Homo sapiens: one gene and its partner. The protein of the gene in region 1 purifies or fractionates together with the protein of each later gene. This does not show direct contact. Each region holds a gene or a part of one and is shown in the gene's direction. Other genes may lie near its edges. The genes, in order: OSTM1 and TMTC4.

Evidence for each region.
Region 2: the proteins of OSTM1 (region 1) and TMTC4 purify together in Homo sapiens (co-immunoprecipitation; 2 studies listed by BioGRID and IntAct, with this or other methods). This does not show direct contact.

The regions. Positions count from the first base shown.
Region 1 is NC_000006.12:108,062,307-108,074,033, reverse strand, and holds part of OSTM1 (osteopetrosis-associated transmembrane protein 1 precursor), read left to right. Parts: intron 1-9,734; coding exon 9,735-9,849; intron 9,850-11,727. UniProt on the Homo sapiens protein: Required for osteoclast and melanocyte maturation and function.
Region 2 is NC_000013.11:100,620,715-100,637,412, reverse strand, and holds part of TMTC4 (protein O-mannosyl-transferase TMTC4), read left to right. Parts: intron 1-678; coding exon 679-881; intron 882-2,217; coding exon 2,218-2,389; intron 2,390-2,476; coding exon 2,477-2,608; intron 2,609-11,262; coding exon 11,263-11,342; intron 11,343-11,520; coding exon 11,521-11,628; intron 11,629-11,736; coding exon 11,737-11,878; intron 11,879-12,907; exon of another isoform or gene 12,908-13,026; intron 13,027-13,373; exon of another isoform or gene 13,374-13,740; intron 13,741-16,698. UniProt on the Homo sapiens protein: Transfers mannosyl residues to the hydroxyl group of serine or threonine residues.

The DNA.
Region 1 (11,727 bases):
CATATAGGTGTGATTGGTTTTCTTGGGGGTCCTGATTCCCCAACCCTCTTGCTCTTCCTCCACCCACTCCACCACGGCTTCTTCTCATCTTCACCTGGAGTTGCCAGGAAGGATCCTTTTCTGAAACAAGTGGGGTGGAGACACTGGTAGTGGTTAGAAATTTGAGCTTTGTAGCCAGAAATGTTCATGTCCACCAACTTCTAACTATGTAACCTTGGATTAATTATCTTCTCAGAACCTTAGTTTCCTCCTCTATAAAGTGGAAAGAACATCTGCCTAATGCGGCTGTTGGAAGAATTAAAAGAGATATTGCCTGTGACTTCATCTTAGTGATGTGAACAGTCTGGAGCTAGCTAGCGGCCAGGACTCCAGTTCCACTCTGCTTATTAGCGGTATACTATGGGCAAGTTACTTACATTCTCTGTGCCTGTTTACTAATCTGTAAAATGGGGATAAAAGGAGGTTTTAGAAAACAACACATAGTAATACCTCTAAGTAAATGGGAGGTAAATTTTTAAGAAATTGTAAGACTGCTCTTCATTCTTCATACCTTAAGGGTTCTCTAGGTGTGTGGTAGCTGCTGTGAGGCACTTAATTTTAAAAAGAAAAACAGACAATTCCTGCTCCTAAGTACTTTATAAAGTTTAGACTAGGAAAAGATTAGAGTGTCAGGGTTGGTGGGAGTCACGAGGTGTGGGCCGGATATGCTTGGTAAAGGAAAAACATGAGGAATAACATTGGGATTGGAGAATGAGAAAGTTCCTCTTGTATTACGGGGACAGCAAGTAGTCTCATGAAAATGTGGTTGGAATTATTCCATAAATTTAAACTTGTCTAAACTTGTTTATAGTTGCACTAAATATAAATTTGTACCTAGTTGGATCCTGCTTTAAGTCAGCCTGTTATTTAAAATAAATCTGTCATGGCTGTGTGCGGTGGCTCATGCCTGTAATCCCAGCACTTTGGGAGGCTGAGGCAGGGGGATCACCTGAGGTCAGGAGTTGGAGACTAGCGTGGCCAACATGGTGAAACCCCCGTCTCTACTAAAAATACAAAAATTATCCGGGCGTGGTGGCACGTGCCTGTAGTCCCAGCTGCTCTGGAAGCTGAGGCAGAAGAATTGCGGTACACGTCTGTAGTTCCAGCTACTCGGGAAGCTGAGGCAGAAGAATCACTTGAGCCTGGAAGGCCAAGGTTGGGGTGAGCCAAGATTGCACTACTGCACTCCTTCCTGGGCAACAGAGTGAGACTCCATCTCACAATAAATAAATAAATAAAAATAAAATAAAAATCTGTCATTTTACATAACTGGGGAATTTATTTGCATTAAATAAATTCTGTGGTCAATCTCTCTGTAAAGAGCATGTTTTTTTTTTTTTCTTTTTTCTTTTTTTTCTGAGACAAGGTCTTGCTCTGTTGCCCAGGCTGGATGGAGTTCAGTGGTGTCATCTCGGCTCACTGCAATCTCCGCCTCCTGGGTTCAAGTGATTCTCCTGCCTCAGCTTCCTGAGTAGCTGGAACTACAGATGTGCACTGCCACACCTAACTAATTATTGTATTTTTAGTAGAGACAGGTTTCACCATGTTGACCAGGCTGTTCTCGAACTCCTGGCCTCAAGTAATCCACCCACCTCAGCCTCCCAAAGATTTGGGATTACAGGTGTGAGCCACCACACCTGGCCAAGGACATATTTTCGAGGTAAATAAATTCAGGCTTACATGCGGTATTTTCCAGGCACACTTCCATTGGGTATAGCAAGGAATATATATCTTACTATCACTTTAAAATAAAGTACCCAAGACATGTCCCTGTCAACTACAGCAGGATACGATATAGCATCATATTCAGTGTTGAGTGGTTAAGATGAGTTGTTTTAGGGTTCCATTTACTCTAAAGAACAAGGGCTATTGTGGGCAGAATGGCCAGGGATCATGATGCAAAGTTTGGGTCTTTGAAGGCAGCAAATGCTTTTCTCATGTGTGTAGGTACTGTGGAATTAAAGAGAGGCTAAAAATAGCACCTCAAACTCTAGGGTGCAGTATTATGGGCATCACCCAATCTGCATGTGAATTTCCATATGAATTCCCCACTACCCAAAGGAGGCTTCCCAGTGGGGGAGTTGTAGAAACCCCCTTCCTTTCCCTCAGATTCTACCAGCAACCTGGGTACCCAGCTCAACTCACCCTGATGTGAAAGGAAGTGGATAAACAGGTGAAAAGAGGCAGGGAAACTTTTTTTGTATTTTCTCTCCAACTCATCCTAGGCCTTGGTCTCGGCTCGCCTTATTTCCCCAGTAGAGCTGGATATGATTCATTAGCTCAAAAGTGTGACATCTACAGTTCTGAGGTACTTTATAGATTTAAAAGGCTATATGGACTGGTTTGGGAGTTGAACCATCATGTATAATAATGAACTTATGAGGCCAGGTGTGGTGGCTCGTGTCTGTAATCCCAGCACTTTGGGAGGCCAAGGCAGGCAGATCACCTGAGGCCAGGAGTTCGAGACCAGCCTGGCCAACATGGTGAAACCCTGCCTCTACTAAAAATACAAAAAAAAAAAAAAAAAAAAAAAATTAGCCGGGTGTGGTGGTGCGCAGCTACTCAGGAGGCTGAGGCAGGAGAATTGCTTGAACCCGGGAGGTGGAGGTTGCAGTGAGCCAAGATAGTGCCACCACTCTCCAACCTGGGGGACAGAGTAAGACTCCGTTGCAAAAAAAAACCAAAACAAAACAAAACAAAAACCTATGGAAAAATGTGTCATGAGTGAACTTGAAGGAATTAGTTGTCTCTTGGGGAGGTTTATTTATCCAGTGTAGTATATTTTCTTTTCTTTTTCTTTTTTTTTTGAGACAGAGTCTTGCTCTGTTGCCCAGGCTGGAGTGCAGTGGCATAATCTCAGCTCACTGCAAGCTCCACCTCCCAGGTTCATGCCATTCTCCTGCCTTAGCCTCCCAAGCAGCTGGGACTACAGGCGCCCGCCACCACGCCCGGCTGATTTTTTATATTTTTAGTAAAGACGGGGTTTCACCGTGTTAGCCAGGATGGTCTCAATCTCCTGACCTCGTGATCTGCACACCTCGACCTCCCAAAGTGCTGGGATTACAGGTGTGAGCCACCACACCCAGCCCTTTTTTTTTTTTTTTGAGACGGAGTTTCCCTCTTGTTACCCAGGCTGGAGTGCAATGGCGGGATCTCGGCTCACTGCAACCTTCGCCTCCCAGGTTCAAGCGATTCTCCTGCCTCAGCCTCCCAAGTAGCTGGGATTACAGGCGCCCACCACCACGCCTGGCTAATTTTTGTATTTTTAGTAGAGACAGGGTTTCACTATGTTGGCCAGGCTGGTCTCAAACTCCTGACCTCAGGTGGTCCACCCGGCTCGGCCTCCCAGAGTGCTGGGATTACAGGCGTGAGCCACCACGCCCAGCCTATCCAGTGTAATGTATTTTGTTTGACTCAGACTCAGTCTTTTATTGAAATCAGTTTTTAGCAAGCACCTACTATTCTTGAATATTGGGCTGGTAAAAGGATAAGAAGGAAAAGAAGGGTAAGATTCAGGCCTCAAACTATCAGTATAGTTAGGGGAAATAAAATACCTTATATGGGGAAATAGGAAAATATCAGTGAGTGTTATAAATTGTACCATAGCAATTTAGAACAAAAGAGTGAAAGGAATGCCAAGTTAAAGGAGGGAACAGAGCCAGATGCAGTGGCTCATGCCTGTAATCCCAGCACTTTGGGAAGCCGAGGCAGGTGGATCGCTTGAGGCCAGGAGTTTGAGACCAGCCTAGCCAACATGGCAAAACCCCGTCTCTACTAAAAATATAAAAAATTAGCCAGGAGTAGTGGCATGTGCCTGTAATCCCAGCTACTCAGGAGGCTGAGGTGGGAGAATCACTTGAGCCTGGGAGGCTGAGGTTTCAGTGAACCAAGTTTGCACCACTGCACTCCAGCCTGGGTGACAGAGCAAGACTCCATCTCAAAAAAAGAAAAAAAAAATGACGGAACAGAGCAAGGCTGGTTCATCAGGGGAAACCTACAAGCTGAATCTCAAGGCATTCTTTCTACCCTTCTTTAGTGTGAATGGACATGGATTGATTGAGAGAGGAGAGGAGTATAATAAGGAGAAAAAAAGAATCAAAGCCAGAAACTAGTAAGCTATTTATGTGGTACAGCAATATAATTAGTTTAACTATAATAGAATTCCCTGATAAGAATCCTAGGTTCTTGTCACTTCCTTTTAGAATTTCTGGGAGAGGGATCGCATATAGTTTCATTATCTCAAGGTGAAAAATACAGTGATTTCTGAAACCTGAATGATAGAACTGAGGGATTCCCTCTTCCTTAGAGTCATACTTTCTCCTTTTAGTTTAAACTGATAGGGACATAGTTTCATTGTGATTCAGCATTATCGGAATGGTCCTGAGGATGCTTTTGCCCCCTCAGATTCTGAATTGGTAGGCTCTGTCCTATTCTACTTGGTTTGTTTAAAATTTAGATAGTGTTTAAAATTTAGATCTATAGATCCATCCATCTACCTATCTATCTCTATCTATCTATGTATCTGTGTATCTTTGTGAAGTGCTAGTCATTTGGGTTATGTATTTGGTGAGTATTCAATATACTTTTACTGTAGATTATTAAATAATGAATTCTGAGGACTATAGGGAGAAAGCCAGAACATAGTGTAATAATCTGTGTCTTTCATTAGAGATCAGAAAATGTAATATTTCTTCTGCATTCATTCAAAAAAATTATTGAGTACCTATTATGTACAGGTTGTGGTAGCTACTAGGGATATAGCATGAATGAGCAGAGCTTGTAGTCTGAAGACAGACATTAAGCATCTCATTATACAAATAATTATTTAATTCATGTGTGATAAGTGTTGCTGATTAAAAAACCCAGATGCTACCAATGCATATGACAAGAGTGCTGATCTTGAGTATGACTGGGGGGTAGGTAGAATGGTCAGTGATTAAAGCAGACACCTACAATTTGAGAGAACACAGGCAGGGGAGGGAAGGTATACATGTAAAGAAATAGCAGGCATGAAGACTGAGATGGGAAGGAGTTTGTGGTGTATCTGAGGTCTAGAACACAGCACAGTGAGCAAGAAGGAAACCCGTGGTCTGAGCCTAAGGAAGTACACAGGTGCCAGGTCATGTGGGCCTTGTAGGGTATGTTAAGGATTTTAGACTTTGATTTTAAAGCAGTATGACGTTAGTGAAAGGTTTAATTCTGTGGAATGACATAATCAGATTTGTACTTTAAAAGGCTATGCTGGCTATGTGACAGAAAATGGAGAGGGTAGGGGCTGGGGAGGGTAGGGGAAGAAGATATGTGGGGAGATGAATTAGGAGACTGTTGCAGTGGTGTGAGAGACAGTGGTGTCTAGGCTATGTGGGGGCCATCATGATGTGGAGAAATGGGTGGATTTCAGAGATACTTAGGAGGCAGAAATTACAGGCTTGGAGGTTAATTGAATGTGGGGAGTAAGGAAAAGGTAGTGATGATTTCCAGGGTTTTAATAAGAGCAGCTTAATGAATAGGGTTGTCATTTACTGAGCTGGAGGGAGGAGTCTGTTTAGTGGGCGAAGATCATTAACTCAGTTTTGAACGTGTTGATTTTGAGGTGTTTATGAGCTTTCTAAGTGGATATATTGATTGCCTATGTGGTTGAATATACACATCTAGAGGACTGGACTAGAGATAACACCTTTGGGAGTGTCGGCATAAAAATGGCATTTGAAATTATGACATGGGTGAACATACCTGAAGAATGAGTAGGAACACTAAGAGTTTAAGATTAAATAGAGGGTAAACTCTCAAAGGTGACTGAGAAGGAAGAATTGGAGAGATAAAGAAGAATGAGGAGAGCATGATGCCCTGTAAATCAAGGAAAAGGGAAGGGGTGGTTATTTGTGTCAAATCCTGCTGAGAGAATTGGAGATATATCTGTCAACACTGGCAGTATTGGTGACACTAACAAGAGTGAATTTGATGGAGTCCTTGGGTACGAAAGTGAGATCAGAGTGGGTTGAACAGGGATTGGAAGATGAGGACATGGGAAGAGTGAACCTAGACAACTGCTGAAGAGTTTGGCCTTGATGGGGAGATAAGAAAGAGAAGTCACTAAAGAGCAATGTGGGACTCAGAGACTTTCTTTCATTTCTCTTTCTCTATTTTTTTTTTTTTTTTTTTTTTTAGACAGAGGCTCGCTCTGTCAACCAAGCTGGAGTGCATGGCACAATCTCGGCTCACTGCAACCTCCACCATCCCAGGTTCAAGCGATTCTCCAGCCTCAGCCTCCTGAGTAGCTGGGACTATGGGTGTGCACCACCACACCCAGCTAATTTTATACTTTTAGTAGAGATGGGGTTTCACCAGGTTGGCTGGACTGGTCTCGAACTCCTGACCTTAGGTGATCTGCCTGCCTCGGCCTCCCAAAGTATTGGGATACAGGCGTGAGCCACGGTGCCAGGCTGACTTTCTATCATTTCTTTCCATTCCCCTGTCCCTCCATTCCTCTGTCCTGCCTTCCCTTCTTCCTTGTCCAAGATGGGAGAGAGCTGGACATGTTTAAATGTTGATAGTAAGGGTCCTTTAGAGAAAGTGAAGATTCTGTAGGAGGGAGTGGGAAGCAGACAAGGTCAGTTTCCAGAAAAGGCAGGATAGATGGGATCTAGGGCATCCTCAGAGAGATGGGCCTTGAAAAGGACAGGTGCCTTCCCCACCTTAATGGGAGGGTAGAAGGAGAGGTTGCATGTAGGGGTAGGCAGGTTAGAGTTTCAGCTCGAAGGCTTCTGTTATCCAGGAGGCTAGATCTTCTTTTGAGAGTAAAGAGTGGGAGAGAGATCAGAGTTTCTGGGAGAGTGGAGAGGATTTGAAATAGCGGTTGTAAAAAGGAGAGAATGAGCAGACAGAAAAGTGAGGAGTACGGTTTGGGATTATGGATTTACTTTGGAATTAATCTGTGTTGTTAATTTTTTGCCAGCAGCTCCTGACTTCCTGGGTGCAGGCATGATCAAAGGAAATGGCTGGCTTCAAGATGGTTAGGGTTCTGCTAAGTAGTTAGGATAGATTTGAGTATTAAGAGTTCTAAGTATAAGCAAGGACCATTGATTTTTTGGTCACTTGGCGAGGTGTTGGGAATACAAAGATGTGACAGTTTCCATTTTAAAGGGACATCTGTCCAGAAGAGAAACCTAAACATATATAGGTGGATATCATGCTTTAAGAAACCATGCATCAGGGTAATGACGCATGGGTCCCACATTGCTCTTTAGTGACCTCTCTTTCTTATCTCCCCATCAAGGCCAAACTCTTCAGCAGTTGTCTAGGTTCACTCTTCCCATGTCCTCATCTTCCATTCCCTGTTCAACCCACTCTGATCTCACTTTCACACTCAAGGACTCCATCAAATTCATTCTTGTTAGTGTCACCAATACTGCCAGTGTTGACAGATGTACCTCCAGTTCTCTCAGCAGGATTTGACACAAATAACCACCCCTTCCCTTTTCCTTGATTTACAGGACATCATGCTCTCCTTATTTTTCTTTATCTCTCCAATTCTTCCTTCTCAGTCACCTCTGATAGTTTACCCTCTACCCAGCTAACACTACCTATTTCATAGAGTTGTTATGAGGATTAAATAAGGAAGTTGGAACATTTGGAACTGGTAAGTAGTAAGTACCTCATCATCGTTTGGATTATTAATCATTTCCTTTCTGTCCTCACTGTTGCCATCATCCTTTCATTATACCTGATCTATGGAAGTAGTGTAATGAGTCTCCCTGCCTCCTCACCCTACATATCACGGCCTAAAGATGTATTCCTCAAACTGCTTTTCATGACACCCTCCTCATAAATCTTAAAGAATTTCTCACTGGCTAACTCTCATGACCCTCACGGCCTCTCATAACCTTGTTCTAACTTAGCCCTTTAATAGCCCTACTTTCATAGACTACTGAATACTCTCCGAATACCACATAATCATTATCACTTTCACCCCATGATCATTTAATTCTTCTATTTTCGAATCCTCTTCTCTTCCTCAATATAGGGCTTAGTTCATATCCTGCTTCCTTCATGAACTCTTTCCTAATTTCTCAAAACTACATTGATATCTTCCTGAACCGAACTGTTCCACACATTGAACACTCATACAGGCTCTACTGTATTGATTTTTAAAATAGCCAGTCACCCACTTATGAAGATTCAACTTAACCAACTAATGACACTTATCCAACTAAACCTACTTAGAGCACTTCAGGTTGGCAGCATGGTAGCTAGGTGAAATAGCATATATCAGTCACTGTGTGCCAGACAGTGTGCTGAGTGATTAATGTATGCTATTTCATTTAATACAGTAACTGTAGGACCCCTGATTTTGAAACTGAACCTTAGCGAGGTTGGGTCAGCTGCCCAAGGTCACTAGCTAGTGACCCAGGCTTGTATTAATACAATATTATTACTTCTACTTAAGAAGTGATAATAGGCCAGGCATGGTGGCTCATGCCTGTAATCCCAGCACTTTGGGAGGCCGAGGCAGGTGGATCGTCTGAGGTCAGGAGTTCGAGACCAGTCAGGCCAACATGGTGAAACCCCGTCTGTACTAAAAATAAAAATTAGCCAAGCATGGTGGCATGTGCCTGTAGTCCCAGCTGCTCGGGCGGCTAAGGCAGGAGGATCGCTTGAACCCAGGAGGCAGATGTTGCAGTGAGCTGAGATTGCGTCACTGCACTCCAGCCTGGGCGATAGAGTGAGACTCCATCTCAAAAAAAAAAAAAAAAAAGTGATAATAGAAAATTTTCTTCTATGGCTGGTATTGCTCAGAAGGTAATTCTAAAAAAGAGTTTTAAAATGTTCTGTTCATGGCCAGGTGCAGTGGCTCATGCCTATAATCCCAGCACTTTGGGAGGCCGAGGTGGATGGATCATTTGAGTTCAGGAGTTCAAGATCAGCCTGGCCAACATAGTGAAACCCCGTCTCTACTACAAACACAAAAATTAGCTGGGTGTGGTGGCATGTGCCTGTAGTCCCAGCTACCTGGGAGGCTGTGGCATGAGAATCGCTTGGATTTTATATTTTAAAGCAGAAATTCTTCCTTTTCTCCCTCTTTTCTCCTTTTTTCCATTTCTTCTCCCACATGACTGACCATTTGTTTCCCAGGAGTTACCACTCTTTTATTATTCATCACACTGTATAACTCCTTGTCTGTGTAACTGCGAGAGGTTCTCAAAGCCCCAGAATTGATGGCATTCTTTTATACTTTTTATATCCTCAGAACTTCAGGATTTTTATAGTGCCTAGTAAATAGTAGGAGTTAAATAACTTTGAAAGAATTAAGGGTCAGCAGGACTTAGTTCCTTGCTTGGGGCACGAAGGAAAGGAAATAGATAAGGATCAAATGATTTGGGAACTTGGATTTATTATTTGCATAGCATGAGTTTCTTTCATTATTAAAATGATCTACAAAAGCATATTTTTCCATCTGGGTACAAACTATTTAGATAACAAAGATTTTCTTCCTTTGCAAGTGAACCTAGTACCAATAAATGTTAGCTGCTAATTACTTTATTATCATTGTTTTTATTAATGTTAACATCTGATCATATCAAACAAAATGTTAAAAAGCTTATAATAAATGTTATTTTTGTAAGGTTTTTGCCTCAAGTTGTTTGCAAAGTCTGAAAATACTCAGATTGTATTTTTCTGTCTTCTTTTTGTTACAGAATACTTCAGAGAGTCAGAGTTGTGCCAGAAGTCTCTTAATGGCAGATAGAATGCAAATAGTTGTGATTCTCTCAGAATTTTTTAATACCACATGGCAGGAGGCAAATTGTGCAAGTAAGTAATTCTTTCATTTTCATGTTGCAGTTATGGTTCAGTAGTACAGATGTCAGATTTTATTTTAGTGAATTTTGGGATCTTTGAAGCTGGATAATACTTTTTATTGCTAAGTTTAAATAAACTGTCATGGACACCATGGTTTATTAATGGCAACTGAGCAAATAGCGAAAGGCAGAAAAGTGTAGCAGTTACTATGAGCTTTGGATTTAGATAGACTTGGGTTTGATTCTAAGCTCTGCCACTTACTAGCCCTAACCTACTAGCTGTCAGATATGGGAGAAAAACTTTGCCTCTTGGAAGTTCAGTTTCTTCATCTGTAAATTGGTGGTAATGATAGAACCTATCTTATATAGTCGCCTTGAGAATGAAATGAAATAAATTGTGTAAAGCACTTAGCTCAATGCCTGACACGTATTTAGTGTTCAAGAAATGTTAACTGTTTAGTATAATAATAATTATGATGTTTACAGTAATCTGTCAAGTGGTGTGTGGCAGGCGGCGGGGTGGGATGATGACATCTGTTCTACCTTCTTTGCAGGTTTGTGTGTAATTGTGTAATAAAATAAGATCTATTTTTAGATATTCTTTGGAAAAATTAAAATCACTTCCAATTCAGATGATGTTTTGAATACCAACTATGTGCTAGGCAGTTCTTATTTTTCAAGTCTTATAATTTAATGAGTGAGAAAGATATATTTACAAATACAGCCTAGGACAGACACATAAATGCTTTAATAAAGTTATAGAGTCCTTGGAGGAAGAAGAAAATAAATCTTACTGGGGAGAATTTGAAATGACTTCCTGGAGGAGCTACCTTTTGAACCTAGGCCTGTACTATTGGACATGATTTCAATAAGTAGAGATGACGCCAGTGAGGCGGCTCACGCCTGTAATCCCAGCACTTTGGGAAGCCAAGGCAGAATTGCTTGAGCCCAGGAGTTTGAGACCAGCCTGGGGAACATAGTGAGACCCCCATCTCTACAAAAATATATATTTTTTAAATTAGATGGACATGGTGGTGTGTGACTGTAGTCCTAGCCACTTGGGAGGCTAAGGCAGGAGGATCCCTTCAGCCCAGGAATTCAAGGATGCAGTGAGATATGATTGTGCCACTGCATTCCAGCCTGGGCAACAGAGCAAGACCCTGTCTTAAAAAAAAAAAAAAGTAGAAATGAGAGAAGGACATTGCAGGTAGTCACAGAGGTATAAAAGGGCAACAGATGTTCCAGGAAGCATAGTGGGAGGTAAAGTTAGCAAGGGAAAGTAGGACCTTGACTGACAGAGTAGTATACTATTTGGGCCAACATTTTTTATACTGCTTAGAATATCAGCATATTATTAAGAAGGGGTTATAGACCAGGCATGGTGGCTCACACCTGTAATCCCAGCACTTTGGGAGGCCAAGGTGGGAGAATTGTTTGAGCCTAGGAGTTCAAGACCAGCTTAGGCAACATGGCAAAACTTTGTCTCAACAAAAAATAAAAAATTAACTGGACTTGGTGGCATGTGCCTGTAGTCCCAGCAACTTGGGAGGCTGAGATGGGAGGTCAAGGCTGCAATGAATCATGGTTGTGCCACTGCTCCCCGCTCTGGGCAACAGAACGAGACCCTATCTACAACAACAATAACAAAAAAAAAAAAAAAAAGAAAAGAAAAGCTTATATAGTATTCTCCTATTATGATTATATAGTATTCTATTAGCCATGGTTTCACTTGCTGTAGTTTCAGTTACTGCAGTCAACTGCAGTCCAAAAATATTAAATGGAAAATTTCAGAAGTAAACCATTTATAATCTTAAATTGTGTATGATTCTGAGTAGCATAATGAAATCCCATGCCATCCTGCTTCATCTACTTGGGCTGCGAATCATCCATT
Region 2 (16,698 bases), on another chromosome or scaffold:
CATGTTTGCTTGCGATCACTAAAGATGTTCTGGGATGAAAGCAGGTCTTCCTGAGGGGGTTGAAAGGGCATGCAGAAGCTCCTTGCATTTCCGTTCTAACAAGGAGTAAAGAGGGTGGTTCCTTCTCACATCAGGGTCCTTGCCAGTCCCGTGAAAGGGCTCCCTAACCCTGTGGCTGGGTTAAGGCTAAATATAACCTTCTTGGTGGTATCTTTAGAAGACTAGTGGTGTCAAGACTATTCTTTTAGATTTGCCTTTTTTCTAAAGGCAAGGGTATCAAGCCACAGATTCTTAGCTGTGCATTTCATAGAGACCAAAATCAAGAGAACAGCCATCGAAGCCTGTTATGTTATTGGGTGTATAGGTGACCCTGGGTCCTCAGATTTAGAGGTCACAGGCTTCAGGCAGCAAATAGATCATAGCTTTGCCAGAAATATAACGAATGTATTGCATAGTCTGATGGCTTTGCCATATTTTTATATACCAAAATCTGAATACATTTAATACATTTTTACAGACTATAGTCACATACCCAATACACGTTGGCAACATTTTATTTGATACAACTGCTTTCATTGAGCAGAAGCATATGAGTGCCTCCAAAGTGAAGTTAGTGCGTATATATGTGTTTTTTAAGTTCAGTATCAAATAGATGTTTGTTCTCCTTTTGACTGGCAGGCCGTAAACTACAATTACTACTATTCATTGAATGCCTGGCTGCTGCTGTGTCCCTGGTGGCTGTGTTTTGATTGGTCAATGGGCTGCATCCCCCTCATTAAGTCCATCAGCGACTGGAGGGTAATTGCACTTGCAGCACTCTGGTTCTGCCTAATTGGCCTGATATGCCAAGCCCTGTGCTCTGAAGACGGCCACAAGAGAAGGTAAGAGGCAGCACTGAATCTTAAGTTCCACGCTGGTTGAGTCAGAAGCGTTTTGTGAAATCCTGCGCTGATCATTTTTATGATTTTGTGGAAGTCACGTCTAAGGACATTTGTTTCAAATGCATATTTATGGCTAGGATGAGTTCCATCCATTTGGAATCCATGGCTGGCTTCCGCGGGTGGGGAGCGAGGCTGGAAGAGGAGCTACGGATGACTGCTTCATCCCTCCCTTCCCCTTTCCCTAGGAAGTAGCATTTTGCGATCCTTTTCACCATAGGTGGTAAAGAGTAATTTACGGTCAGAACAGAGAGTGTAATTGATGTGTGTTGTGCCCATTATTGCACAATTCTTCCTCAAAACACCCTGGTGAACGCTGCCATGATTCCCTCTGTTGTAGCTGGGTACAAAATAAGCCATTGCCCCAAAGAGACTGTTCTTTCTTGATGGAAAAAAAAGTTATTGAGAAAATAATTGGGGAAAACAAATGTGTTTCATGAAAAAGAAAACTGTTTAAGGTGATTTCCTTTAAGCCTAAGTGTTTATGGAATTAGATTAGTAATGTCTCAAAATAAATTAAGTTTTAAGTTTACCTGTGTGTTGAATTGGTTAGTAATTCTAAGGAGCCACAAACTTTAGTCCCAGTTCCCTTATCCACAGAAAATGGGATTTTTATAGAAATACTGTAGCCACAGGGCCCAAGAAGGAGCCACCAAAATTGACCTAGAGTCTTAATTCATCCTCTTGCATCATAGGGGACATTGGGAATGATCAGGTGGTTCCAGAAGTGTTTCAATGCTCAGCTTCGTATCTCCCTGACTGAAATTTATGGTGGTGATGTAGCAACCAAAAAATGGTATTTGTTTATTTCAAATTTCATAAACTTTAAACTTACTTAAGTGTTATTATTCTCATTACATTTTGGAGGAATTTTTTTTTCCCCGTGAAAACTGATTGGGACAGTTTTTGAATTAATTGAGACCAACAATATCCACTGAACTGTTCAGTACCTAAATGGTTTGAGGCATAGTGAGGAGTAGGTGAATTAATAAGGCCTCAGAAATGCGATCATGCTAATTTTCTCCATACGAATTGTATGGCTTTTGAGTTTTACCCTTAGACTCGCTGTGAAGTGCCAGAGGAATATTTTTGTGCCTTATCCACATGCTACCAAGCTAAACTGTCTCTACTGATGATATCCTTTGGCTGACAACAATATCTTTTCTCAGTTGATGCCATGGAAAAGAAAAGGTCTTTAGCATTAATTTAATGTGGAGTAGGATGTTTTTCTTGAGAAGTCTGGAAATAGCCATTTATTTAAATACTTTTCATCATCCAGGATCCTTACTCTGGGCCTGGGATTTCTCGTTATCCCATTTCTCCCCGCGAGTAACCTGTTCTTCCGAGTGGGCTTCGTGGTCGCAGAGCGTGTCCTCTACCTCCCCAGCGTTGGGTACTGTGTGCTGCTGACTTTTGGATTCGGAGCCCTGAGCAAACATACCAAGAAAAAGGTATCAACTGAGAGTGGTGCCAGCTGATGAACAGAATGACCGGATGCATCTCACTGGTGACAATTACCATGTCTTTCTGTTCTTAAGAAACTCATTGCCGCTGTCGTGCTGGGAATCTTATTCATCAACACGCTGAGATGTGTGCTGCGCAGCGGCGAGTGGCGGAGTGAGGAACAGCTTTTCAGAAGTGCTCTGTCTGTGTGTCCCCTCAATGCTAAGGTACCTAGCTGCCAGATTTCTTTTAAAGGGACCTTACTAGGGTATCTGTTAAGTTCTTGGGCTGAATAAGAACATTTCCTGTCGCGCAGTATTTAGTGTAAGACCATGACCGAATACTTGGGTTTTTCTTTGTTATGTATGGTTTTTTTTAATGATTTTGATAAGATTCATTAAAATTCCACTCAGCCAAAATTGAAAAGAAGTCATTTAAAAGCAGACAGTATCAATGAAACAGATGACTCTAATGAGGTCTTAATCATCTTCCAGATGATCTACTCACCCTTTGAAGTAGCTTCAGGGGAGGTGACATTGCGTATTCAGACTGAGGGTGGGCACGGCACAGATTCTGATGTCTAGAGCACACTTTTCAAAACCCACTCTCTAGTGATAGCATTAACTAGCCTCCTCCAAGCTGGAATTTAAAGGGGTAGTAATGCCTACAAATTGGCAATAATGTAGTTCAGGAAGTTTATGCTATGTGCTGCACAATAGTACACATTTATGTCACCTTTGGGTGCCCTGCTAGTGATTTTTTGGGGGTCAGATTAGGTAAACATAAATGTACATACAGTCATGTGCCATGTAACAGTGTTTCAGTCAGCAAACCGCATATTGCATATATATGACCATGGTCCCATAAAATTATACCTTTTTTTTTTTTTTTTGAGACTGGGTCTTTCTCTTGTCACCCAGGCTGGAGTGCAGTGGTGCGATCTCGGCTCACTGCAGCCTCCACCTCCCGGGTTCAAGGGATTCTCCGGCCTCAGCCTCCTGAGTAGCTAGATTACAGGCGCTTGCTACCACACCCAGCTAATTTTTGTATTTTTAGTAGAGACAGAGTTTCACCATGTTGGCCAAGCTGATCTTGAACTCCTGACCTCAAGTGATCCGTCTGCTTCAGCCTCCCAGATGCTGGGATTACAGGCGTGAGCCACTGCACCCGACCAATATTTTTACTGCCTCTTTTCTATGTTTAGATACACAAATCCTTACCATTGTGTTACCATTGCCTCCAGCATTCAGTACAGTCACACGCTACACAGGTTTCTGGCCTAGGAGCAGCGGGCTAGACCACACATAGCCTAGGTGTATAGTAGGCTTTACCATCTAGGGTTGTGTAAGTACACTCTTATGATGTTCAAACAATGACAAAATCAGCTAACAATGCATTTCTCAGAATGTATCCTTGTTGTCATCAAGTAATGCATGACTGTACTCTAAAATTGGCAGTGTTTTTGTTTGAAGCAATCTGGTAGGAATTTTTTCACTTGTATTCTTGATGAATCCAAGCTCTTCACTTGACTAGCTGTGCCTCTTTGGGCAAAACTACACTTTTTAAAACTTGCAGTGCCCTTTTCTATCAGAAGTGGATAATACCTATCTGCTGGATTTGTTGTTAGGGCTGAATGAACTAAAATGCCCTCACACGGTGGCCAGCAGTAGGTGCTCAGAAAGTGTTAGCTTTTTTTTTTTTTTTTTTTTTTTTTTTTTTCCCTGAGATGGAGTCTTGCTCTGTTGCCCAGGCTGGAGTGCAGTGGCCTGATCTCGGCTCACTGCAACCTCCGCCTCCCAGGTTCAAGCGATTCTCCTGCCTCAGCCTCCCGAGTAGCTAGGACAGGCATGCGCCACTATGCCCGGCTAATTTTTGTATTTTTAGTAGAGACGGGGTTTCACTATGTTAGCCAGGCTGGTCTCGAACTCCTGACCTCGTGATTCGCCCATCCTCAGCCTCCCAAAGTGCTGGGATTACAGGCATGAGCCTCCGCGCCCAGCCAAGTGTTAGCTTTTGTAGGTTCATTTCAGTTTGGGTTTTGCATTATGTTGGGAAGAGAACGCTATTTGCTCAAAATGGGGGCCAAGGGGTTAGGTTAGAAGAATTTTCTTTTAGTATAGATTATTATCATGAAATAATGATCATTCTCTCTTAGGTCCTCAGCATAAGAGCTGCCTAGATTGCTTAAATGTAATCCTCCTGGGTGGAGACGGGGAGCTCTCTGGATCTGTTTCATGTCTATGTTCCATATTTAAGGGAAAGCAGTGATTTCAGACAAAATTATATAAACAAAACTAATGAATAGTTGACATCTTATTATGAAACTTAAGTAAAGAATAATATATAAGAGATGCTGGCTACTTATCTTTTTCTTGGATTAAAACCTGTCATTCATATTTTAGTTAAGAGACTTAGATAAAATAGTGAATTACTTTCAGCTTTTATCTTTAGTTTGATTTGTTGACTTATCAATTTATTTTATGCTACCAAAAATAAATTGCCTGTGATTTAATTTCTTAAACGTTAATAGATCTGCTTTATTTTTCCTTTACTGTTTGAATCGCAGTAATTGCCCCTTCTATGTGTGGAGTTCCTCACCACAAGGAGTTCAGATTTCTTTACAGAGGCTCTATAATTCATCTCTATTATCCTCTCACTCAGCTTTTTAGAGAGACAGCGTATTATTTTCTCTGTTTTCCCAGATGGGAGAAACTGAAGCATAGCAAGATTAAACTGACATTATCTAGGTTAGTAATGTAGGTGGCTACAGAGAGACCTGGTATGGTGATGTGCCCAGGTGCCTCTAGTAAATAAGGGGGATGGAACATAGGTGATGTCTGAACCCAAAAATCTGCCCGGGAAGTGATTTCATATGTTACAGGCTAGAAAACACAGGGCGTGTGCTTGTGGGAATGCACGTAAGTATTAGGAGAAAGACAGAGAGAGAGAGAGAGAGAGAGAGAGAGAGAGAGAGAGAGTGTGTGTGTGTGTGTGTGTGTGTGTGTGTGTGTGTGTGGTTTCCTCTTAATTTAAGGAATACATATAAGACCTCATCTTCAAAATGGACCCAGTGGTAATAGTCCTTTCTCAAGAACATTTTTCAATGATTCTATTCAATATAAGCAAGATTGAGATTTTTGGGAGTTTCTTTTTAAATTGAAGTGTCATAAAATTATCTTTACTTCCTTTTTTTTGAAAAAATGTAAGTTAATTTTAGGAAAGTAATCTCACTTAGGAAGACACTGGTTTCCTTCAGTCCCATTATTTCAGGGGACACATTTTCTATACTGGTTTCATTTGATATCTATTGAATATAAAGTAAGAAATTGGCAACTGGCTCTAATTTAGGGCCAGATGTGTGAGCTAAGACTCATCTTTTTTGAGAGATTGCAATGTCAGTGTAGGTAGTGCTGGTCCCTGGTCTGCATGTCAAGGCACAGTGCCTTGCATATGGTAGACAATCAATATTAGTTATTGAATTCAGCCAAAGGGAAGTTGAATTCACTGAGACTACTGTGGATGAGATACCAAGTATACTTATAATCATTTTTAGTTTTTAAGGCTTAAAAGTATGTCACACCATCAACTCTGTGATACAATTCTATAATAAATTCTTTTAACAATGAAACAGATCATATGCCACAATGAGGTATTTTCTTAAGGAGTAAGTGACCCAGGATGCTATAGGATTTTTATGTTTTCAAAACATTTTAAGTTTAACATTAGATGTTGCCAGAATATTTATAACAAATTAGTTTAGCCCTGGTATTAAAGGTGCCTTTCATAACTGATACTCTCACTTTCTTGCATTTACATGTTACTGGGTTGTAATGTTTGTTTTATCTTCGACTTCTGTGCTAGTTCATTGCCTCAGCATGTGCATCACAAATGCTAGGGGGAAAGTTGAAGAATAAACAAGCTTTTCAATCATTTATATTTCAGGGAAACAAAAGTCAGTCATTCTCTAAACACTATTTTAAGTGACCTGGTTGTGAGATTTTTGTTCTGTTTTGTTTTGTTTTGCAATCTAGGCAGCTATTTTTTATTCAAAGAATTCCCTCCACCTAACCCATAGGATAAAGCTGGCCTCTAGGGAAACCTGTTTACCAATTCTTAATGATGGCCTGCCTTCTAAGGCTGTATCAGATTTTTAACTAGTTCCTGTTCCAGAGTCCCACGTCCTTCTCCTTTGATCTTCTGGTCTCTGGCATTCTGAGTGTCTAACAGAACACTGTCTATACTGCAGAGGGCGGTTGAACTCTTTGTCTGGGCTTTTTATTGAGAAAACAGAATTTGCCTGGAACAAAGGAAAACAGCAGGAGCTTGGGGCGGAAGAGGCGGGCGTCGTGTTGATGTCTGAGTAGAAGCTGTATTTGTATTCTGAGGACTACAAGGACATCACTGACAGATTGGATTCTCCGGCCCTAGGTTGTTTTGTGCATACGAGAGGAGGTGAAGTCACATGTCCAAGCTGGGTTGGGGGAAGCTCAAATTCTAATCATTTAGAGCACTTTTCTCAACACACACTTCAGCGATAGCATTAACTGAGCCTCCTCCAAGCTACAATTTGAGGACAAAAATACCTATGAATGGACAATAATTTGATGCAGAAAGCTTAAATTCTACTGTGTGGTGCATGGTAGTACACACATTTTTATCACCTGCAATTTCTCTGCTTGTGAGTCCTTTCATCAGAGTGGGTAAACATAAATCTATATGCTTTTAAATTGGCAGTTAAGAAAACCTGTTAATATGCACTGCTGCATATTCTTCCAGAAATCTAAGTATGTTTGACGAAGTGCTGTAACTGTAGGTTAAGATGGATAAGGCAGGATGTGGTTGTGTTTTCAGGGGTCATTTGGAAGCAGTGTTCAGACATAATGTTATTTGAATGTGTTTAAACCACTTCTGTATTTCAAGATTTTATTAGTTTTCTCAGGCTGCTATAAACACACACACACACATACACACACACACACACACACACACACACACACACACACATACACACAGATTGGGTGGCTTAGACCACAGTTAATTTTCTCACTGTTGTAAATGCTGGAATTGTCACATCAGGGTGTCAGCAGGGTTGGTTTCTTGTGAGGCCTCTCTCCTTAGCTTGCAGACGGCACCTTCCCCCTGTGTCCTCACGTGGTGTGTCTTCTGTGCACACATATCTCTGGTGTCTGTGTCCATATTTCCTCTTTCTGTAAGGACGCCATTCATACTGGACTGGGGTCATATGGATGGGGGCCCAACCATATGACCTCATTTGACCTTACTTACCTCTTTAAAGACCCTATCTCCAAATACATTTTCATTCTGGGGTGCTGAGGGTTTAATGTAAACTTTGGGGGACAATAACATATAAAAAGAAATGTGATTTTACTTAGGAAAAAGGCCAGTGGTATGAATGAGTGGATCTAGAAAGTGCCTCGAGCAGTCACCCTCATCTTCCCCCAGCACTGTAATCAATGTGTATTATCTAGTGGGAAGAAACACAGGCTTCAGAGCCTGGTTCTAATCCAACTTCACAGCCCTAGATGAGACGCTGAATGGCCCCGAAGCAGTTTATCAACTCAGAAGAGAGGGTCACAGCAGCCACGGCCTCGAGCCACCGTGAGGAAAGACCGCGATCACACAGCACGCAACACCGCTCCCAGCTGGTGGGTGCCACTCAAGGTGTGCCAGCTACACACCATCTTACCATTCACCGTGACTGTTGTTAGCAGCACCCACACTTCATGCTTCTGATTGAGTGAGTTTCTGTAGCATCGTCTCCTCTGGGCTTGCTACTCACTTTGTATTGTAAAGTCCCGAAAGGAGCTTTTGATCATCAACAAATACTTTTCTTTTTCTTTCACTTTTTCTTTTTCTTTTTGTGAGACAGAGTCTTGCTCTGTCGCCCTGGCTGAAGTGCAGTGGCATGCTCTTGCCTCACTGCAGCCTCCAACTCCTGGGTTCAAGCGATTCTCCTGTCTCACCCTCCCAAGTAGCTGAGATTACAGGCGTGCACTACCACACCCAGCTAATTTTTGTATTTTTAGTAGAGATGGGGTTTCACCATGTTGGACACGCTGGTCTCGAACTCCTGACCTCAGGTGATCTACCCATTTTGGCCTCCTGCAGTACTAGGATTACAGGCATGAGGCACTGCGCCCGGCCAACAAATTCTTTTTATTGTAGTCTTCGTGAGCTTGTGTAGTCTGGCTGCCTTAGGCTTAGTTCAAGTCCCCACTTTTTTCTTTGTCATTTATTCTAAGCCCATGTTTAGTTGAGAAACTACCAGACGTTGGCTTCCCTGATGCCCTCGTTCCAAGGTGACCTGAGAATTCCTAGTAGATTGGCAGCTGGGAGCCCCATTCTATCCAGCCTACTTCACCCCCTCTTCAGTCATTGAAAATCCTTTCCTCATTCTCTCTTTTTTTTAAATGGAGGTAAAATTCCTATAACATAAAACTATCCATGTTAGTACCTCAAAAAATTAAAAACAGAATTCTGTGATCCAACAATTCAATTTCCAGGCAAATATCCAAAAGGACCGAAAGCAGAGACTCAGAGAGATTTGTACACCCATGTTCACAGCAGCGTTATTCACAATAGCTAAAAAGTAGAAGCTACCCAGGTGTCCATCCAGGGACAAATGGACAAACAGAATGTGGTGTACTCATGCAAGGGAATATTATTCAGCCACAAAAGGAAGGAAATTCTGACACATGTGACACAAATGGACAAATCCTGTACAATTCCACTTACATGAGGCACGTGGGAGTCAAATGCATAGAGACGGAAAATGAATGGAGGTTGCCAGGGTCTGGTGGAGGTGAGAATGGGTACAGAGTTTCAGATTTGCAAAATGAAAGAACTCTGGAGATGGATGGTGACCATGGACTTCCACGTCAGCCTATCCTGTACCCCTAAACAAGGCTGGTCACCCATCACATCTCTTGAAAGTCATCACACCCATTCTGTCCTGAATGTTGGGAACCTACCACTTGTTCTTGACACTCTTCCCTCTCTCCTATCAGTTGGTCACCAATTTGTATGCTTTTTGCTTCCTCACTGTTCTTCAAACCCCTCCACAGATTCACCACCACCCTAGTTCAGTCTGCTGACCTCTCTCCTAGGACTGCAGCCACAGCCTCCCTGGAGCCCCTGACACCTGCTTCTCCCCCACTCACATCTCTTTCCCACCACGGGATTTGTTTCATATGAACATAAACATGGTGGTGACCTCTGCCACCCTCCCACCCCTGGCTTCCTGCTGTGGGTTTAATTGTGCCTCCCAAAAGCTACGCTCAAATCGTAACCCCTGGGACCTAGAAGTATAATGTATAACCTTTTTTTGGAAATAGGGTTGTTGCAGATGTAATTAAGATGTCAGTTAAGATGAGGTCATACAAGAGGATGGTGGGCCCTTAATCCAGTGTGACTGGTGTCCTTTTAAGACAGGAGAAGAGACAGGGAGACAGACAAGAGGTGAGATGGTCATGAAGACAGAGGCAGAGGTGGGAGCGAGGCATCTGCAAGCCGGAAATTATGGGCAAGCACCGTGAGACAGGAGAGAGGCAGGGAGCAGTCTCTTCCCTCAGCCGGTGATGGGACCAGCCCTGCCCACACCGTGATCTCAGCCTCCAGGACTGTGAGAGAAGTGTGTTGTGTTAAGCCCCTCAGTTTGTGGTGCTTTATTGCTGCAACCCTGGGGCACTCACACACTTACAGACCCCGCCCCGCGCCGGCCTCGTGGCTCTGAGGACAACGACTGATCCTAGCCTGCCCTTGCTCAGGGTTCCCTGCGAGCGCAGCTGCTCCTCCCGGGCTCTCCAACCTGCATCCCTGCTCTCTGTGCTCCAGCCACACCGAGGCCCTTGCTCAGACCCTGTGAGAATAATACCAGAGACAGGGTGCCAGACACTCATTTCTCACAGTGCCAGAGGCTGGAAAGCCCACCATCAAGGTGCAGGCAGGTTGGGTGTGTGGTAAGGGCCTGCCTCCTGGTTCACAGACGGTCGTCTTCTCACTGTGTCCTCACGTGGCGGAAAGGGGGCATGGGAGCTCTCCAGGGCCTTTTTGATGAAGGCACTGATCCATTCATGGGCCTCCACCCTCATGACCCAATCACTTCCCAGAGGCCCTACTTCCCAATACCATCACATTAGGAGTCAGGATTTCAACATCTGAATTTTGAGAGTCCATAAACATTCTGCTTATTACAGATACAGAGTAAAATGCTTGTGATGCTAGCTATAGAAGAAAGGTGCCATCCAAGAAAGGGCCATATTTGCTTAAATGGGTGGACAGAATCATGCTTTCTTCTACTCATGTCCACATGTGACTAGACTTTGTTATCTCAACTCTAGTGGAGTGTGTAGGTGAGGGGAATTTGAGGTTTTGATGATAAAAACAAGCCAGGTGTGGTGGTGTATGCCTGTAGTCCCAGCTACTTGAGAGGCTGAGGCAAGAGAATCACTGAATCCCAGGGGTTCAAGGCTGCAGCACGCTATGATGGCACCTGTGAATAGCTACTGCACTCCAGCCTGGGCAACATAGCAAGACCCCATCTCTAAAAATCAAAAGTAAAATTTTAAAAAGCCCAGCTTTGTAGTTTTCTGGTTGTCTCTGGTGAGGTCTTTAGTTATTTCCCTTCTGTTGTGCTTTAGAGATGTATCATGCCTATACCCCCTTTCTTCTGATCCTCTTACAGGGTTGGAGATTAAAGCACAAGCAACTCCTAACCCCTGTAGGGTTTTAGCTAAAGTTCTGGTGGGTGATTTTTTTTCCTCGTCGCTTTACCTTTTGTCTTCAGTTAGAAGATGTGATGGGGTCCAGGCTCTGAACAAGAAGTCTGTCTGCTGATGGCCCAATTATTCTCTGTCTGCAGGTTCACTACAACATTGGCAAAAACCTGGCTGATAAAGGCAACCAGACAGCTGCCATCAGATACTACCGGGAAGCTGTAAGGTATGGCGAGTATGTCTTACAGAAGAATTATGTACACAGATCGTTTTCACTTTCTAATATGAAACACCTGTTCCTTTAAAGACCCCAACTTTACAATATCTTTACCGATTCCTGAGAGTTTAGTAAAAACTTACTATTGAGCATTTAATGGTCAGCTTGGTTTTTTCTCAACTTTCAGATTAAATCCCAAGTATGTTCATGCCATGAATAATCTTGGAAATATCTTAAAAGAAAGGAATGAGCTACAGGAAGCTGAGGAGCTGCTGTCTTTGGCTGTTCAAATACAGTAAGCATTGTTTTTATAATTATGCTAGTGACAAAGAAAGGAGCTCCTGCATTCCGGCATCTAAGCCTTTCATCTTCTTGTTTATCTTTGTTAAAACTGCTCCTCTAGGCCAGACTTTGCCGCTGCGTGGATGAATCTAGGCATAGTGCAGAATAGCCTGAAACGGTTTGAAGCAGCAGAGCAAAGTTACCGGACAGCAATTAAACACAGAAGGAAATACCCAGACTGTTACTACAACCTCGGGCGTCTGGTAAGCGCGGGGTGCCCTGTGCCTGTGGAAGGAAAGATGGGTTATTTTTCTTATTTATAATAAAATGACATAGTGACACCCACCTAGCCCATACATTTTATAAAGTTCTTTCACATGTTTCTATCTCATTTGAAGGTAGCTATTTGATTTCCTTTTGAGTAATTTTTTAAAGCTCTCATTAGAGAGCAGTACAGTGTGAATTAGTCAAGTTTAAGAGGTCACCCACGCAAAAGGTTAAACCCAGGAATAAATTAACATGTTAAAGTCCCGTCCGCCCTGTAAAACAGCACTCCAATGGGTAACTTCCTGATAAACATCAGTTTCTCTGTTTTTAAAACAAGAATTGAGTAAGAACAGAGATTAAAGTAACAAATCCGTAGTATGATTTCTGAGCTCCCTTGTTCTCCTTCTTCAAGGGAGCAGAGCTCTTCATCTGCAGGGAGCATTTCCCCCAAAAAAGGCAGCTTTGGAGGGCACGGGATTTATTTGAAAGGGCTTTGACATTATTTGGTGGAAATAGAAAATAACGTGTTCTGTAGTAGCTTTATATTTTTGGTTATTGACAGGATGTTTACGAAGATCTGATTGCTCTTGATTTTCTTGACAAAAATAAAATGAGACACACACATAGCAAAATTCTTTAAACACGAATGGTTGTCTTCTCCCTATAATCAACCATTTAATTTGGTTTCAAGAAAACAAATACATATGTTCCTAATATATTTAGATGTATTCAATAAACATTGTTAATTAAAAAATTTGTGTTCATTCTAACCAAACTGGAATACATCCATAGTGATATGACTTTCACAGAAGTTTATATGTAGATTTCCAGATTTTATCCAGCTTAGCCTTACAGGTAGGAAGGCATCCTCGTGTTCTAAAGAGATGTCTGCTGCCCTCGTTTTAAAGGCCTGAAGCTTCTTGGTTTTGTTTTTTGTTTGTTTGTTTGTTTGTTTGTTTTGTTTTGTTTTTGGAGACAGAGTTTCGCTTTAAAGAGTTCTTATGTTGTCAGAACTGGTAGTTCCCTTAGCTGCTTGTCGATGGCTTTCAAGGTTACTTCATGGAGCTGGAGCGCTTGGCTGCGCAGGCCCTGAGGGCTGGCGGTCCCAATGGCATGGCCACGGTGCGTGCCATGGCTTCTGGAGGTGGTGTCTCTTTCTTTTTTTATTTTTTTTTTATTTTTTTTTTTTGAGACAGAGTCTCACTCTGTCACCCAAGCTGGAGTGCAGTGGCGGGATCTCGGCTCAACGGGATCTCGGCTCACTGCAAGCTCCGCCCCCCGGGTTCACGCCGTTCTTCTGCCTCAGCCTCCGGAGTAGCTGGGACTATAGGCGCCCGCCACCATGCCTGGCTAATGTTTTGTATTTTTAGTAGAGACGGGATTTCACCATGTTAGCCAGGATGGTCTAGATCTCCTGACCTCGTGATCCGCCCGCCTCAGCCTCCGAAAGTGCTGGGATTACAGGCATGAGCCACCATGCCCAGCCTGGAGGTGGTGTTTCTATTGATAACAAGTAGGTGACTGGCCTAGAGATGGAGGTCATGATGACTGCAAGGAAGAGACTGGACCCATACAATGTACTACCCCCAAAGACAGCTTTAGGCACCAAGGAAGACCCTAATTTAGTCCCCTCCATCACCAACAAGAGAATAGTGGGTGCATCTGTGAAGAGGAAAACAGTGCTGTCATCTGGTTTTGGCCGCACAAAGGCAAGACCCAGCAATGCCCCAGCTGTGGAGCCCATTACAAGCTGGTACCCATCAGCTGGTGCATTGAGCGCCTGCACCAAGTTACTCAAAATGTGCTATAAAGTTTCATCTTTCCAATAAAGACCAGCCATTGCATTGGCTCCTTCTCCTTCTGCAAAAAAAAAAAAAAAAAAAAACAAAACCCAACTAGTAGTTTCCAAAACTGACATGCATCCAGACCGTCCCACCCCATCTGACATTTAGGGAATCAAGGGCTCTATAGAGAATCTGTTTTAAAATAACAATAATAAACTGGGCACAGTGGCTTATACCTGTAATCCCGGCACTTTGGGAGGCCAAGGCGGGCGGATCACTTGAGGTCAGGAGTTCAAGACCAGCCTGGCCAACATGGCGAAACCACATCTCTACTAAAAATACAAAAAATAGCCAGACATGGTGGTACGTGCCTGTAATCCCAGCTGCTGGGGAGGCTGAGGCAGGAAAATCACTTGAACCTGGGAAGCAGAGGTTGCAGTGAGCCAAGATTGCGGCACTGCACTCCAGCCTGGGCAACAGAGTGAGATTCTGCCTCAAAAAAATTAAGTAAGTAAAATAACAATAATGAATCACCCAGGTGATTCCAGTAACCTGCCCTTGGCCCTGCAGCAGGGAAGCAGCTCTGTCTGAACTTGGATAACAGGGTAATCATGTCAGAGCAGAAGCCATGGTTTGTGGGGAACAATCCTAGAAAACACTGACTGCTTTACATTTATTGGAAAACCAGGCTTTGGTTTTTACCATAATGTGAATGTCTTTGGTCTTACTGTCTTTGTTTCTGGAGTGGGTAGCCATGATTTTGTGAGTTGTGGAGATAGAATCTTATGAATGGAGAAAACAAGATAGCAGGAACGTCTGGCTAACTAATGGTAAAATGTGACCTTCCCCCTCTGCAGAAGTCCCTTTACGTGGACGAGTAATGCTTGTGTTAGAAATATATACATATGTAACTAACCTGCACATTGTGCACATGTACGCTAAAACTTAAAGTATAATAATAATAAATTTAAAAAAAAAGAAATACTAAAGTGAAGTGGTTGCATGTATGAGTCCATTTTCATAATGCTGATAAAGATATACCTGACACTGGGTAATTTATAGAGAAAAAGAGGTTTAATGGACTCACAGTTCCATGTGGCTGGGGAGGCCTCACAATCAAGGTGGAAGGTGAAAGGCACATCTTACATGGCAGCAGACAAAAGAAAATAAGAGCCAAGCAAAAGAGGTTTCCCCTTATAAAACCATCAGATCTCATGAGACTTAGTCACTACCACGAGAACAGTATGGGGGAAACCACCCCCATGATTCAGTTATTTTTCACCAGGTCCCTCCCACAACACATGGGAATGATGGGAGCTACAATTCAAGATGAGATTTGGGTGGGGACACAGCCAAACCATATCACCGCATTTTTATTACTCAAAAAATGCAAAACATGTTTCAGTTATGATATGCCACAGGAAGATACCACCTCTATGTGCTGACTCCACTGTGGAAAGGAGGAATTATTTCTTCGTGGGCACAGAGGCAAGGGTGGCAGGAATGTGGCTGAACTCATGGAATGGCATGATGCTTGAACAAGGAAGATTAATGGCAAGATATTCCTTTGTCTCACATTAACTTTCTCCAGAACCACTGACCTTGCGTGCATTTTTGTTCTTTTACATTTTAAAATTCTGTGCTTTATGACCTAGTTACCTGCTTTGATGTTGAAACCAGTTTCTCTGTGAGACCTGAAGATTCCAGGAGAGCTGAAATTATTATAATGATCGGCTGTTTGTTCCCAGGGGGAAGGGGAGGCTGTGAAACCTCAACATAATGTTACGAGTGGTGACTTCAAAATTCAATCACATACAAAGCAGGGGCGATCCTCACAAAGTTAGTGAAGTGAGAATAGGGGTGGGGTGGAGGATGGGAGCACATGAGGTCTTACCTGAATTCATGCATTTGGGTGGTTATGAATATATGGGTGTAGGGATTACCGTTTCTGTTCACTGTATCTGTTAAACTAGTACTCAGTGACTAAATATGAGACTTGGTATTCATAAGAATTCTTCTTTTGGTTGGGCGCGGTGGCTCACGCCTGTAATCCCAGCACTTTGGAAGGCCGAGGCGAGTGGATCACAAGGTCAGGAGATCGAGACCATCCTGGCTAACATGGTGAAACCCCATCTCTACTAAAAATGCAAAAAATTAGCCAGGCGTGGTGGCAGGCGCCTATAGTCCCAGCTACTCAGGAGGCTGAGGCAGGAGAATGGCGTGAACCCGGGAGGCGGAGCTTGCAGTGAACCGAGATGGCGCCACTGCACTCCAGCCTGGGCGACGGAGCAAGACTCCATCTCAAAAAATAAAAATAAAAAAAAAGAATTCTTCTTTCATCCCTTTTTTTCCTTTTCTGGGGATTGCTCTTCTGTTACTTTATTGCTCACAAAGTGAGTGGGTCTGCCCACAGCCTCCCAGGTTATCCTCTAGGCTCCACAGCTTAGTCTTCTCCCCTCTCCTAGTAGCTGCCCGTCACTGCAGTTCCTTGGGATTTGGAAAATAGAGGATTTATAATAAATGCTCCTTCTGTAAGAATGATGTCCAAAGGGAGGAACGGAGAATATAAAGTACCAGCTTTTATCATGTGCTGTAGTCCTTGGGATTCATTACACTTTCACTTGGAAGATCATCTGTAGCATTGAACACATTGAGACCTTGTACTGCTTTTGGTTTATATTGTTTACTAATTACACTGCCGTGAAATGGTCTTCCTGTATTCCATTCCGCCAACTGTTCCTGCTTATTTAAGGCTTTTGCTTTCCCTTGTGGTTTAATTATCCAGCTTTTTCCTCTTTGACAGCTTAAAAGCATTAAGAGCTTAATCTTTAACAACTCAACCAACCCATTTATATACTGGCAAATAAGAACTTAATAGCTTAAGAGGGTTTTTTGTTTGTTTGTTTGTTTGTTTGTTTTAAGAAATCACTCTCTAGTAACAGGAGACAGCGATTTGTTTTGATTTCTAGACCCCAATATGGAGAGAATATAAGGCAGTTCTCTTGTGGAATAGGAAGTCAGGAAGAGCGCAA